Linked DNA regions of Homo sapiens: region 2 is linked to region 1. The links come from fine-mapping of genetic effects on gene expression. Tissue or cell type: monocytes after LPS. Region 1 holds a variant in brackets; the other region holds the start of a gene. All regions are shown on one strand. Distances are from middle to middle.

Region 1 (2,768 bases):
CTGTGTTGAAAATTAAACTCAAAACTCACTTGGTTCAGGAAATGTCTACCCACGTGACTCTGCTTGCCATTGTAGCAACTTTTATTCTTAATTTACTTTGTTGAACCTCTGTTCCTCACCCATAAGATAGCAATAAGAAAATTTCTCACTGTTTTTGTATGAAAAAAACGAAACAACCTATCTTAGCTGTTTAGCACAGTGCCTGACACTTAGCAATTATCTAAAAACTTTTAGTTTCTCCTCTGATGTGAATCACTGATGACTTATTAATTTGACTCAGTCAATTTTTTTTTTTTTTTGACAGCGTCTCGCTCTGTCGCCCAGGCTGGAGTGCAGTGGCGCAATCTTGGCTCACTGCAACCTCTGCCTCCCAGGTTCAAGAGATTCTCCTGCCTCAGCCTCCCGAGTAGCTGGGACTACAGGCATGTGCCACCACACCCAGCTAATTTTTGTATTTTTAGTAGATACGGAGTTTCACCATGTTGGCCAGGATGGTCTTGATTTCTTGACCTTGTGATACGCCTGCCTCGGCCTCTCACAGTGCTGGAATTACAGGCGTAAGCCACCGCGCCTGGCTGACTCAGTCAAATATTCTATCAAAATAATAAATTTTCTTATTATTCCTATCTTACCGGTGCATAACAGAGGTTCAGCAAAGTAAATTAAGAATAAAAGTTGCTACAGCAGCAAGTGGAATCAGGTGGGTAGACATTTCCTGACCTGTTAAGTTTTGAGTTTAATTTTCAACACAGAGGGGAAACAGAAAAAGTCTGGAACTGGCTAATGTTCCTCCCATGAGTCGTCAGAAAATCGCCATGTTGCTGTCTGTCTAAACTATGGATCTGCAAAGAATTACAAAAAGATCAAATTTCTCTTTATCTTCCCATCTTTTCTTTTAGAATCCACTCTAATTTCTAGGCCCTGTTACTTTTTGTTTCATCCATTCCTCCCTTTTTTCTTTTATTCTGGAATAATAACAACAATGTTAACTGATGATATAAAGAAAGTGGAGACTAAAGTTGATACCCATATTCAACACTGTAGTTTATCTTTAGTTACAAAGCTTTTAGAATTTCTTTTCCTAAAACATTCACATTTCTTTTTCTTTTTCTTTTCTTTTCTTTTTTTTTTTTTTGGGGGGGG[G/GGC]GGACAGGGTGTTACTCTGTTGCACAGGCTGGAGTGCAGTGGTGCAATCTTGGCTTACTGCAACCTCCGCCTCCCAGGTTCAATTGATTCTTCTGCCTCAGCCTCCTGAGTAAGTGGCATTATAGGTGCCCACCACCACACCCAGCTAATTTTGTAGTTTTAGTAGAGATGGTGTTTCTCCATGTTGACCAGGGTGGTCTTGAACTCCTAACCTTAGGAGTTTGCCAGGCTCGGCCTCCCAAAGTGCTGGGATTACAGGTGTGAGCATCGTGCCCAGCCAACATTCACATTTCTAATGCTTCTTTCATCTTTAGGTGGTTAGAAAACATCTTTTATCTTTAGTTAATAAATTCTATAGCTTTGACCAAGGGTAAGTATCTCTGAAGATAAACTTATGGTCAATTCAGATGAGCAAAACTTTACCCATGTTATTCAAGTGGAAATTCTAGAACTGAAAAATTCAATATCTGAAATGAAAAGTTTGAAGACGCACTTAACAACAGATTCAAGATTTCAGAAGTCTGGAGATTGAGGTTCTTGAGATTGAGGACAAATCAATAGAAATTATCTAATCAATATAATAGAGAAGAAAAAAAGATTGAGATAAGAATGGACAGAGCCTCAATGACGTGTGGGACAATATCAAGAGATCTATATATCCTTGTAGTCACAGAGAGAGAGACAGAAATGGGGAAATGGGGCAGAGAAAATATTTGAAGACATGATGGCTCTAATCCCTCCAAATTTGGTGGAAAACATCAGTTTACAAATATAAGAAGCTCAACAAACACCAAGAAGTATAAATACAAAGAAAATCACACTTTGGAATATTATAGTCAACCTCATGACCACCAAAGATAAAGAGAAAAGCTTGGAAGCAACCAAACATGAAGGACACATTCATACAAAAAGAAAAATAAGATGAACAATGGTTGACTTCTGATGGAGGCCAGAAGACAATGGAATGACACACCCAGAGTCCTAAGAGAAAAACAAATCAATCAACCCAGAATTCTATATCCAGTGAAAATATTCCTCAAAAATTAGGGTAAAATGAAGACTTTTTTTCAGATTTAAAAAAGTGGAAGGAATTAGTCACTTTCAGACTATAAAAAATGACTTTTTTTCATAATATTTTTGAAAAAACAACCAAATGATTAAAGCTAAAACAACAAAAATGTGTGACTGATTTCATAACATATGTGTGTATGTATATATATATATACATATATATAATGACAACAATAGCACAAAGGATGAGGGAGGAGGCATACTGGATTATTCTGTTGTAAAGTTCTTAACTGTATATAAAGTAACTGTATATATACAGTATATACTGTATATATACTGTATATATACAGTATATACTGTATATATAACAGATGATTATACTTAGGATAATAGTATTTACTTGAATACAAAGTATATACTGTATATACAAAGTATATACAGTATATACAGCATATACTGTATATATACAGTATGTACAAAGTATATACAGTATATACCTGGTATATATACAAGTTATATACAGTATATACAGCATATACCTGGTATATATACAAGGTATATACAGTATATACAGCATATACCTGGTATATACTTTGTATTCAAGTAAATACTAT
Region 2 (2,500 bases), 84 kb before region 1:
TCATTCTCATAAAAGTACTTATTGAATGCTCACATACCCAGGATGCTACGGAGACAGAGGTCTTGTTCTCTAGTCTATCACCTGCATACTAAAACAGACAACACTGAAATGGACATACACATTACAGATACAAACAATAGACATGCCCATGGTCAGCAGTGTACCGTGCACACATTTTAAATTACAGACTGAATTTTTGCACGAGCTGCAGAGGATTAAGTGTTCTGGGTTTGAGTGTTAAAAAGGCACAGGAAAAAGAAGCAGTGGAAATTGGCTTCTCCCAGTTTCCTCTGAAGAGGGAAGCCTCCTAAAACAAAGGTAAGAGTCAGGAGCCATACAGAAAACAGAGTTGAAGATGTTTGTTAACCCCGAGGGAAAGGTTGTTCTAGGTGTATAAAATAGCAAAGAGAACAATAACATGTAATAATGCTAGATAGCAATCTCTCCCTAATCCATTAAAGCTAAGCCAAGCTTCTTTACGCTGCCAAATGCTTCACTCCTATCTACTCTCCCGATTCCTTATACTTCTGAACCTCCTCAACAGAAATCTTGCTCTCTCCCTAAATCCTCAGTGCAACATACGTCCGCAAAAACTAAATGATCCCTCCTCAGCCAGACAGAAAACTCTCAACATATCAACACTCCCAAGGCGTGGACAGGGCTCAACGGCAGTAGTAAATGGCCGCGGTAAAATGACTCAAGGCAGATCGCGCTGAGTCAAATACTACACGGCAAGTATACACCGTGACCGCACCAAACACCTTACAAAGGTTCATGAAAACAGACTCGCAAACTGGGGTTGCTGAGTTTGGAAAATGGGAAGTGACTCAGGAAAGATAAGAGCAATGACAACGAAAACTCAAAAAGTTGGATTTGTATTTTGATTTTTTAAAAATCCCCCCTTCATCCTGGTGCTCTCAAATGACCTTAAAGGGTCCCAGCACTGGGAACGGCGGTTCGTCCAAGCCGGACGCCTGCAGCAGCCACCTCCTGGGCCTCACGGCGGGGCCGGAGAAGGCCAGGGCTGGGGCGGGGCAGCCGTGCTCGGCCCCGGGCCAGGGTCCCCCGGTACCCGACCAGGCCCCGCCCTAGAGGGCTCGGCCCTGGGACAAATCCGCCGCTCGGAACCCGCCCAGCCCGACCACGCCCGGGAAGGGGGCCCCTCTTCAAACCGCCGGGAACATGGAACCGCGACGCGACCCCTGCCCGGCGACGCAGGTCCCGCTCACTCACCGCCCATCCTCCTGCTCCGCCAGCTTCACCCTCTAGCTCAGACCACAGCACCCTACTCTCCCCGCGCCTCCTCTGACGCACTTCCCTGCAGAGCCCGCCCCCTCCATAACTCCCGCGCCTCCGCCCGCCCCCACTCCGGGCCGGGCCGCGGCCCGGGGCCGAGGGGCCTTGTGGGAGTTGTAGGAGGGACAGACTGAAAGCTGTCTGAGGCGGCGATAGGCATTCCTGGCGCCGCGCGCGGCGCATTGTGGGAGATGTAGTTCAGCTCCTCAGGGCAAGCCGGTACGCAGAAGGGAAGTCTAGGCTGTTGGATTCTTGCATTTTAGGGAGGAAGGGAGAATGGTCCAGAAAGTAAAGCGGGCCTGTTTCCGGTCATCTCGAGTCAATGACCGTGACTTGTATAACTTAGATCTGACTTTTAGGCCTGTGCTTTCCCTATCACACCACCCTGCCTCTAGATCTAAGTATAAATGAACAAAAATGGGATTCTACTTGTGAAACGTTGACCCATTTTATTTCCCTCTCCCAGAATCCCTCCCATTGGAGCAGAGCATCCTTCTGGTTTTATTGCATAAGTTTAGGCTAAGAAGTATGTGACCTGGCAGACAGTATCCATCAAGAATGTAATGATATTATTTGGGTTTCATAAAATGTGTTTGTAGCTGCCTTCTTTTTATGACAAGTGATACTAGTTTTCTATTGCAGCAATGTTGTTCCTTTTAAATTCTTTTCACTTATTTTAAAAACTATTAAGTTAATAATACTGAGGATACCAGATATGTCAAAAAATGAATAAAAAATTGTGGGTATAGTAGGAAAAAGACTGAAATTTGGGGAACATCACTCAAGCAGATAAGGTCATGGACAGCATTGGAGATTGCAGATGATGTGTGGCACAGGGGCAACAATGATTCTGAACCCTCAGGTTTAACACAGAAATTCATGGACAGGAAGCAGGGACATCTTAACAATAACATGAGTGGAACTATTAACGTGGCCTGGGACCAGCAAATGGTGGATTTCTCAACAGTAACCGACAGAGAAAGCTGACTCAAGGACCAGAGGGGCTCTCAAACCCCCACTCTGTCCCCTAATGCCTTGTAATTTAGCATAGGAGAAAGATGGGAGCTGCAAGTTGATATTAAATTTCTACCACTTTGACAGATTAAAGGCATGATATGTTTCTCTATCTGTACTTACATTTCTTTGACCTGAGTGGGTGAAACTGATATTCATATGCAGCACATAATAAGGTAGTAGCCAAATA

Alleles and levels. Alleles are on the strand shown, and positions count from the first base shown. SD is a standard deviation of normalised expression in the study named.
For the expression in monocytes after LPS of the gene that starts at base 1,287 in region 2, GGC is the low allele of the variant in region 1 and G is the other (large effect, 0.84 SD a copy in Kim-Hellmuth 2017).

Evidence for each region. PIP is the estimated chance that this variant, and not a neighbour inherited with it, causes the effect.
Region 2: it holds the start of CLDND1, and the variant in region 1 is fine-mapped to the expression of CLDND1 in monocytes after LPS (Kim-Hellmuth 2017, PIP 0.94).

Annotation. Positions count from the first base shown.
Region 1 is chr3:98,605,537-98,608,304 of GRCh38, forward strand. No RefSeq gene overlaps it. Among named protein-coding and RNA genes, the nearest start is that of CPOX, 13 kb to the left of the region's middle. The variant G/GGC (reference allele first, on the strand shown) is at 1,144.
Region 2 is chr3:98,521,616-98,524,115 of GRCh38, forward strand. It overlaps CLDND1 (claudin domain containing 1), which reads right to left and starts at 1,287. Exons shown (of 5, transcript NM_001040181.2): 1 at 1,234-1,287. It overlaps CLDND1-AS1 (CLDND1 antisense RNA 1), which reads left to right and starts at 955. Exons shown (of 2, transcript NR_198998.1): 1 at 955-1,218. RefSeq lists silencers at 734-843, 894-1,533.